Homo sapiens: one gene and its partner. The protein of the gene in region 2 purifies or fractionates together with the protein of the main gene of each other region. This does not show direct contact. Each region holds a gene or a part of one and is shown on either strand. Other genes may lie near its edges.

Evidence for each region. Proteins that work in one complex are often made in the same cells at the same time.
Region 1: the proteins of CD244 (region 2) and MTX3 purify together in Homo sapiens (affinity purification with mass spectrometry; 3 studies listed by BioGRID and IntAct, with this or other methods). This does not show direct contact.

Annotation. Positions count from the first base shown.
Region 1 is NC_000005.10:79,980,642-79,985,818, forward strand, and holds part of MTX3 (metaxin-3), read right to left. Parts: intron 5,019-5,177; coding exon 4,930-5,018; intron 3,154-4,929; coding exon 3,043-3,153; 3' UTR 1-3,042.
Region 2 is NC_000001.11:160,838,607-160,843,783, forward strand, and holds part of CD244 (natural killer cell receptor 2B4 isoform 1 precursor), read right to left. Parts: intron 3,296-5,177; coding exon 2,978-3,295; intron 2,895-2,977; coding exon of another isoform or gene 2,880-2,894; coding exon 2,604-2,879; intron 444-2,603; coding exon 333-443; intron 1-332. UniProt on the Homo sapiens protein: Heterophilic receptor of the signaling lymphocytic activation molecule (SLAM) family; its ligand is CD48.

The sequences.
Region 1 (5,177 bases), on a different chromosome or scaffold from region 2:
TCTAGTTTTTCTAATCATATACTACCAACAAAAATAAACACAAGCATGTTCCCTTTAATCATATTATCCTCCACCATTACTTCCAAAAGGCATTGGCTCACAGTATTCTGTTTAAGATTGTGGACCATTTATCCCAATGAACTCACTCAAACTTTATCTAAAACATATCATGACAGGCTGGTCCAACAGTCTGTTCAGTCTGAAAAAATGTTCTGTGCTCTGTTCAGATTGACAAAATGTTCTTTTTGGCCGGGCGCAGTGGCTCACGCCTGTAATCCCAGCACTTTGGGAGGCCGAGGCAGGTGAATCACTTGAGGTCAGGAGTTCAAGACCAGCCTGAGCAACATGGTGAAACCCCGTCTCGACTAAAAAAAAAACAAAATTAGCTGGGCATGGTGGCACATGCCTGTAATCCCAGCTACTTGGGAGGCTGAGACAGGAGACTTGCTTGAACCCAGGAGGTAGAGGTTGCAGTGAGCCGAGACTGCGCTACTGCACTCCAGCCTGGGCAACAAGAGTGAAACTCTGTCTCAAAAAAAAAAAAAAGTTCTTTTCTAAGAGCTTCCTGTATGTGTGGCTGCTCCCTAAAGTACTTTGTGCTCAGTTACAGCTTCCTGTCATCTCATTTACTTATACATAAATAGCTCAACTAAGTAACCCAACATATAAACTCTCACTAAACTCACATGTTGCATCTTAGAAAAGGTGATCTGGAAGCATTATGGACTATAGTGAGAATGTAAGGCTAACAGCAGTTCAAAGTAGGGATGACACAAAAACAAATAAATCATATTGACAGTCATTCCCTCTACTAAAAAAGAATAATACTTGTTATTCTAAAATGACCTCTTTTGATTAAAATTTCAGTTCATAAAACATTACAGTATGCTTCTTTATCAAAGTCTACATATCAGAAGAACATGAGCTCCACGTTCCTGTAAAACTTTAAACACATTTTTCTTCCTAATAGACATTAGCAGTTTTGTTGAAAAGAAAAATTGACATAACCTAGCATTATCTTTTGACTTTGCCCATGGAGAAACTTGGAGTTAAATTTACTACTTAATTTTAGAATCTGTCAGTGTTGATATGGTTCTATAAATTTTTAATTTTTTTAATTTAAATTTTTAAAATTTTTAATTCTTTAAAATTTAAAATTTTTAAATTGTCCTGTTTTACATGTAATATACTTGTAATATACATGTAATGTACTTGTACGTTATAACTGTAATATATTTCAAATACTTTTTGGAGGGTCTGATATAAATCTGATATAAATTAAAAATGACTGGCCTTGACCACAGCATAAGCAGATGTCTGATGAATGTGCTAACCACCCTTCTCCAATATACATCCATCCTAGAGGACAATAAAGTCTCACAGTCATGATTTCCAATATAACATATTTAGGTTTCAGACTGCTGGAATAATAGATTTCAGATTGCTGGAATCTAATAATCTGCCTTTGAAGATGACTGACACACACAAACACACACACACACACCCTGTTGTAGAAGTAATGTGCAACTCATGAGGTACTTTCCCTCATCCAAACAGATGACCAAGATTTTGAAGACTACCTTATTTCTCACTTAGTTAAAACTTTCAAGAAAAAATATTTAGAATGACTTAAAGACTCTTGTATAAATAACTACCTAAATACAGAACAAATTGGGAGGATGTGGGTCAAACACAGCTGAGCTCCACTCAGCTCAAATTAGATGAGTCTTTTGACTACAAAGCTCATTTTCTTAACATATGGGTTCCTGCACGACTTGATAAGATTTGCTGAGCACCACAGTAATCTTTTAAGACACTAATCAAAAACATGGTTCTACATTTTAAAAACCTCAGAAGTAGTTTTAGGACAACAGAAGCACCTCAACCACTAAAATAAGCAAGTTTCTATTATAAGTAAAATTACCACACAGCAAATCCCTTAACAGTTCAGCAACCAATAAATAGAAAATATTCATTAAAAGCTGCTATTTCTGATTGTTCCTTTGTATTCTTCGACTATAAGTGAAACATATGAAAAATAATTGGTTGTCAGAAAGCTTTTGACTACATGATATGCATCTTATGAAAGAATATGCATCTTATGAAAGAATATGAGCCAAGCATAGAAAACTTGGACCAGATGCACAGTATTTCTACTACCCTGGCCATGGGCTCCTCCTGAGTAGTGTCTAACAAGTGGGCAATTTCAGTAAGAATTTTACAGCCTAGCATAGTAACGATAACCAGTACATTCACTTCTTCTGGAATTAATACAAGAAAGACAACTGAAGATGTACTACAAAGACATAGGTCTAAAACTGCCACATTTGCCCAAGTAAACTAAAAGAACTCTTCCTAACCTATATCGAACACATCAGCAAAGACCAATGTTATACTGAAATGAGTATTATCAGATGTTATTATATGTAACCACCTTTAATATTTATCTATGTGCTACTAAACCCCCAAAAGATTAGACTTATGAGAGCATAATTAAAAAGCACATTCCTCCTCACTTTTTAAAGTTAAATATGGTCTCTTCTACTGAAGCAATTTATCTTTTTCTGGTTCCTAAAATAGGCATCAAATTTCTAAACAGAAGTAAAAAGCCTCAGCCAAAAAGCCACATATTAGGTATTCAGCCTGGTCTAAGAAAACTAAGTTAATAAATTGAATAAATTAAATCAAATAAATTAGGAGTGCACATTCAGAACAGAATTGTAGCCTTTGGTCAGCAACATGTGAACCAAAGGCAAAAATCTGCCATGATTAAGGCAGTTCTTTGTATACAGTACGATGTGTTTTTCTTCCCCGCCCCCCCAACCAAGTTCATTTAGCATTCTCTTTGTTATTAAAAATGCAGTGCCAAGCTAGAATACAAGCTTCCTAATAATAATAGTAAAAATAGATGGCATAGAAAGTTCCTTTTGGTTTAGAGTCTTCCTTAATACCTATTATGGTATCTTCTTTTTGCCTTCACACACTTGGTGTAAGAGATTACTGCAACAATCGTTTGACTTTGGCCACAAACCATGACTACTCTCAGGGCGAAAGCCGTTGGAAGGAATTATTTTCTTCTTCTGCTGGAGTCAATTTAAGTGTTGGCAGTTTCCGAGGAGGAAGCTGAGGGCTTTGGCGAAGATTGTCATCCATCTGTAGAAAGTACAAAAGATACATCTGACTAATGCTGTGGCACCGCTTATGTGGACTGTGGCCTCCCCATCCAAACTATAGCCTAGAAGAGTACAGAACCATATGTTTCCTGGGCTGCTAGAGAAACCTTTTTCTTACAAATAATCTCAAGAATTCTAAATGTCATACCTCAAATACCAGCTGACTCAGTTTCTGTAAAAAGCAACGTGGCTCATTCCTGATACCTTCACAGAATTATAGTTAATTCCACAAAATAAATATTCTACTGAACTCAACCATAACTTAAAGAGGTCTTCTGATAGTAAGTGTAAAAGCGGTACTGTTACACTAAGCTCCAGTTTGCAAACTATGTTCACGTACAGTATCTTATTTGATCTTCCCGATACGCTATGAAGAAAAGGCAGACACAGACCTTCTCTGTTGTACAGATGAGCAAAACGAGACTCTGTAAGGTTAAGTGATTTGCCCCACGTCACAAGCTAGTATGAGAGCTGAAACTTGAACCCAGGTCTTCTGATTCCAAAACTATTATTCTTTCAACTATACTTCTTTACCTCAATGAAAATGACCTGTATTCCAATCAAAAAAGACCAGCTTTTTAAAACTGAGAATATGTAGACCAAAGGAAGCTAGTACATTAGGCAAAAAGAAAGATAAATTCTTTAAATGTAATCCAGTGGTTTTCCAAACACTGGATCACTTCTAAATGAGGTAACCCACATCAAGCTCAAATAACACAGTGGTGGACCTCAAAAACTGTTAGCCAGTGTCATCAGGCCTCATTGCCCTATGAGTTTGTAAAATAGTAAGTATTACTATTTGTATCAGGAAAAAAAAAAAAAGCAAGCTTATCAGTTACAGGGGAAAAAATATGTAACCTCTTTGTATTTTTCCTAGTAGAATCACACTTGAAATTTCCTTTGTTGGTTCTCTCCCCTACCCAGTTCCTCAATGTTTCTCTCATGAAAAGAACACCCCAAGTGGCAAAATATCTACACTGGTGAAAAAACTATAAACTATATCTAGAGCAGAGAAGAACAAGAAGGAGAAAAAAATAAAACTTTCATGTGGAAAGAAGAAAAGAACACGGTGCTGTTAATAAGAAAGGATAAGCCCAGTGCTTACAATCTTAAGAAACATTAAGAGACAGAGAGGCAGACACACAAGCAAGAAGTGTTTTTGCTTTGTTTTTTTTTGTGTTTTTTCTGATGGAGTCTCGCTCCGTTGCCCAGGCTGGAGTGCAGTGGCACGATCTCAGCTCACTGCAAGCTCCGCCTCCCGGGTTCATGCCATTCTCCTGCCTCAGCCTCCTGAGTAGCTGGGACTACAGGCGCCCGCCACCATGCCCGGCTAATTTTTTGTATTTTTAGTAGAGACGGGGTTTCGCCGTATAAGCCAGGATGGTCTCGATCTCATGACCTCATGATCTGCCCGCCTCGGCCTCCCAAAGAGCTGGGATTACAGGAGTGACCCACCGCGCCCGGCCGCTTTGTTTTTTTAAAGCAAATCTTTTGGATTTCCTAGCTTAAAGGGTACTAACTGTGTGGCAAAAGTAAACCCAATACTCTTATCTGATCTTTCCCCAATCAGGCCACTGTTGGCTTCAAAACACTATGTTACATACAACTTTAGTGAAAGTATATTTAAACAGTTTTCTGAAAAACAAACTCTATAAAAAAAACTAAAAGGGTACAGTTAATGTGTGACCCAAATGACAATATTAGCTACCGAAAGGAAAATACTGAACTATGATAAAATGATTGAAGTAGACTTGACCTTTTCAATCAAGTTGGATTCCTTATTTACAAGTTGTGTGAGTTTCTGCAGATTTGCATCTACCGTTTCTTGTCCAGCTGGAGAGATGCCTAAGAAGCCAGGACAGAAATCAGAGAAAGACAGGAAATTTTTAAAGCCTTTAAAGCTATTTAGATTGAAAGAATTTTGAGTCTACCCACCCTGTCCAGTGCCCCACCCTCCCCAAAAAAGGCAAAGAGGAAAACCATTCTGGGTTTAAAGGCGAAGAG
Region 2 (5,177 bases):
CCAAACCTTAAAAAAGGTTCTAGAAAGGAGGCAAGTTAATGCTCTTCCCAGGAACCCCAAAGAGCACAGAGGCAGCAACCGAACTGCCCCTCCCACACCTCCTCCCAAACCAGCTGTCTACAGGGAAATCTGCGCATTGGGATCAGAAGGCATGAACTGGGAGAGAGAGCCTAGCAACCTGCTTGCCCCCCGCCACCACGCACACAAACATACCAAAGCTCGTTGAGGAAAAGGAGATGCTGTGCTCCCAGACACATCCCACTGGACGCAGGACAAAGTCACAGGATCCAAGGCCTCAGGCAGGAGCACCACCCTAAGGACCTTCCACTCACCTGACTGCTTCTCCTTCCTCTTTCTCCTCCACACACAGAAGCAGGCAAGGGTGCCAAGGAACAGTGCGCTTAGAATCACGATGATCACCAAAAACGGCCAAAATCTGAATTCTGAGGAATACAGAAGGCGTGAGAACTGAGCTGTCAGCTCGCTCTCTTCTTCCTTCCCACCTGCCTGCTGCAGGGGCTGCCTCAAAACCCACTTTTCTCTGTGTTGTGGCTGATTGCCTCGTGCTCTGAGAACTCACGGTCAAGGTTTTCTCTTTGCTCATTTGGTTAACCTCCTCTGAGTGATGCCAAGAGCATAGATATATCAGACAGGCCTGGCTCAAATTCTAACCCTGTGAGCTCTGCACTATTTATTTAACCTCTCTGGGCCTCTCAAGTCATCTTATTTTTGGAAGATGCCTCAGAGCCTCTTAGATTTTCTCACCTGTAAAAGGGGATAACGTTATCTACCTATAGGGGTTAATTACATGATCTAATACAGTTGCCCTCCAAAGTTTTGAGTTCCACAATGTGGATTCAATGAATTGTGGATCCAGAATATTCAGGGAAAAAAAATGCATGTGTATTGAATATGTAGAGGCCTTTTTCCTTGTCATTATTCCCTAAACAATACAGTATAACAACTATTTAAATAGCATTTACATTGTATCAGGCATTATAACTAATTTAGAGGTGACTTAAGTAAGGTATACAGAAGGATGTGTGCATAGGTTATATGCAAAAACTGCACCTGTTTATGCCAGGGACTTAAACATTCGTGGATCTTGGCATCTGTGGTTGCGAGGTGGGTCCTGGAACTAATTCGTCATGGATACTGAGGGACATGTAGCACAACAAATGTTACATTTATCCATTCCTTTGTTTTTAACTCAAAAAATACTCATTGTACAGGCAAGTTTTCCGTCTCACTTTTCCACTATTCCTTCCTTCATGGCTCTTCCTCATTTGAACTTCTACTTAAAAGATTTGTGTCACACATGTAGCCTGATATATAATCCAGCCAACAAGAGGAAGGAAAAGGAATTAAGTGTTCCAAGGGCTGACAAGGCTCTTTGCAAACATTATCTCATTTACTCTTAACAGCAATCCTGTGAGGTACTTATTATCACCCCCATTTTACTCAAGGGGGGAAGAAAATTGAGGCTCAGAGAGGTTAATGAATCTGCCAGAGATCACAGAGCTTCTTTTTTTTTTTTTTTTAAATAGAGATGGGATTACACCATATTGTCCAGGCTGGTCTCAAACACCTGGACTCAAGTGATCCACCTGCCTCAGCCTCCCAAAGTGCTAGGATTACATGTGTGAGCCACCACACCTGACCTCTAAGAGATCACAGAGCTTCTGAATGATGAAGCCAGTGTCCTAGTTCAGTGGCATGATCTTGACTCACTGCAACCTCCGCCTCCTGGGTTCAAGCAATTCTCCTGCCTCAGCCTCCTGAGTAGCTGAGATTACAGGTGCCCGCCAACACGCCCAGCTAATTTTTTGTATTTTTAGTAGAGACAGGGTTTCACCATGTTGGCCAGGCTGGTCTCAAACTCCTGACCTTGTGATCCACCCACCTCAGCCTCCCAAAGTGCTGGGATTACAGGGAGCCACTGCGCCCGGCCTGCCTCAGTCTTGTTTCTTTTTTGTCCACAAGTAGTTATTTTTGTTGCCCCATTTGGCTATAAGTTCCTTATGAATGAGAGCTGTATGGTTTTTTTTTCCTATAATGCCCATGCTGCTGGTACATTAAGTCCCTGTTTATGTAATAAAAAGTTGTGGAACGGTAACTCAGGTAACTCTTAGGATGAGCATAAGCAACAGCCCAAGAACTCATCTAGGTATCCCTGGGGTCATCCTGATGCTCCTGCTCCAGGCTACTGCTGCACAGTGTAGTTACCTCTTGAACTATGTGGCTTGGAGAAAGTTATCACTCAAGAGGAGAGGACAGTTCTCCATCAGCCTCTCCCAGGAAGAAAATAATGTTCAGGAGCCATTTCAGGACTGTCACTCACCAAACAACTATGCCCTCCCTCTGCAGAAGAAAAGCTTGCATCTCCCAGAAGGAAATAGGGATAACATTTTTTTCCAGAGTAGGATAGGCCTAGCTTTACAGGAACTGTGTGCCTGGAGGCCAGGGCTACCCTGGGAAGGGCTACAAGGCACTGGGAGAGGAGGCCAAGGGATTTTATCTCATACCACATCTGTCTTGCACATGAGCCTGGTTGCGGGGTCCAAACCTTCAGCGCTTGTTATAGCCCAGTGTGTTCCACTTACCCTGATGGGCATTCTGACAGTCCTGAGTGAGATTCAGGGTGTGGCTTTCCCAGCTAACAGGATTGCTGACATTGCAGGTATATGTGTGAGTGCCATTAATGTCAACCTCCTCGTCCAGGTAGGTGAGGTTCCCTGCTGTCTGGATCAGCTTGCTCCCTCTGTACCAAGCATAGGACACATTGCCATCCCTGGAGACCAAGCAAGACAGAGCCACTTGGCATCTCCCTCTGTCCAGGATCTTCCCCTGCCCCTGTAGGCGGGGTTTCTCAACTTTATCTGGAAGCAGAGATTCTGATCAGAAAGGCATTGGAAATACAGAACTTAGAGGCCTATAGGAATCAGAGAGGGCAGTATGAACAGTCCTGGAGACTTACCAAATACAAAAACCTGGAACGTGGCTGTCTGAACTTTTCCAGATATACTGGTGACCTCCAGGCAGTAGAGGCCACTGTCCTGCTGCTGAGCTGCCTTGATGAGAAGACTCAAGTTCTTGACTATAAAACTGAATCTATCATTGGAAGTATTGGAAGGCAAAGAGCCATTCTCCCACTTCAATATGTGATGAAATCCATTTTGTGAGGGCAGCAACTTCTTCCATGCAATGCTGTCAACCTTCGTCTGTATGCTGTTTGGTTGTAACTGAAGAGGCACTCCCGAGATGCTAACCACATGGTCAGCTGATCCCTGGCATCCTAGGAAAGAGAACCCAAGCTGAAAGTAGCGGGAAGAGTGTCAGGCCTGAGCAATGTGGGCAGCTGGATGTGACTTCCCTTAAGCCAATTGGGTGGGGATGAGTATGAGGAGCCCAGAACCTAGGAGCACCTTAAAGCATATCCCCTCCATCTGCCTCCCCTTGTCCCCAAGCTCTGTGTCCCTAGTCTGAGGGATCCCATAGACCAATAGCTAAAATCTTGAGTACTTACTATGTGACAGGCAGGTTTCACACTTTATACATTTTAACTATTTAAGTTAAAAGGTATGATGAGTTAAAAGAATGATGAGCCTGAAACCTAGTCAGTTTGGTGTTATGTTTTTGTTTTCTTTTGTTTTGTTTTCTAGAGACAGGGTCTCACTCTGTCACCCAGGCTGGAGTGCAGTGGCGCAATCACAGCTCACTGCAGCCTTGAACTCCTGGGCTTGAGGTGATCCTCCCATCTCAACCTCCCTAGTAGCTGGGAGCACAGGTGCTAGGGAGCTTATTTGTTTACTCTTTGTAAAGACAGCAGTTTGGCTTGAGAGGATAAATTCTTAACCATGATGCTATAAATACCACATCTAAGGTGACTCCCTCCAAGCAGTGCTGAGGCAACTACTAATGGCAAGTAGTGACTGTTGGAAATTCTGAATGGTCAGGCCCAGGAAGACTAACCGTCCAAGCTGAACTCATGGCCCCTCAACCATCCTCTCACAGAGCTGAATACATAATCCTCTCTCGTGGCACTTGGTTCATTGGATTTTGGTCATTACTTATTGATGTTTGCCAGTTTTTCAGTGATCAGAAAGTCTCCACAAAAATTTCTCCCTAGAAAACAATTTTAAAAATAAAACTACACTTCCCAGGCAGATCCCAGCACTTGCCTCTCAAAGAATCAAGATGAAACCTAATGAATATGGGGGTGTGACAACCTAGAGCAATTCTGTGCAGTCAGTGTACAAAACTGGAAGTTCCTACAGCCATTTTTAGTAATAAAGCTATGTGGCATGGCCCAGCAGGTGCAGGAAATTAAAAAGTCTCTCTGGGTGAGTTGGGGAGGCTCAGGGAGGATTTGGAAGAGAAAATAAGAGATGGGGAGAGTTTTACAAGTGGCTCCGTTAAAATGGAGGCTATTAAGAAGAGAGCAATTGAGACAGAGGGGTTTTTATATGTCCAGTGCATTATGAATGCAGTCTCTCCAAGCCACAGCTTCACCCTGGCATTTTCTCAAGAGACTAAGTAAATAATTAAAGGACTTGTAATACTATTTGTTTGATGAAATATGTTTCTTTGATCTTGATGCTCCTAAGACTAAAACACATAGGTTCCCATTTATATTTATATGACTTGTACTGGCTCTGCCCATTAGCAAACCAAAAGCTTCTCAAAAGCAGAGACTGTGCTGTGCATCTCTGTGTCTCTGTCTCCTACGATCCTAGCACTATTTATAAGAACAAGTCAACCTACCAAATATTGCACAAAGACCCTGAGAACAAAGGTGAATGGAAAAAATCATTACTAAACCTACAAGGAGGACATATACTGTCTTCATCAATTATTCAGTCCTTACTGAGTCCCACTGCAATCCAGCCCCTGAAGAGGCAGGGCCTCTTCATGTATAAGGCATGATTCCTGACTCCAGAGAGTTTGTGATCTGGAAACAGAACACTTTCATTCTACAGCATCCCCTTAATTGTTGAGATAAAAAATCATCGAAGGAATTCTAATTATGTAATGAAAATCCAGGTTAAGACATGCTAACCAATCCTCCCACTAAAAATAGCTAGAAGAAAAATGAACAACATGTAAAAGCACATTGTTAAAGTTATCAGAGAGTTTATAAAGCAGTGAAAAATTATGGGGCCAATATCTGGAAGAAG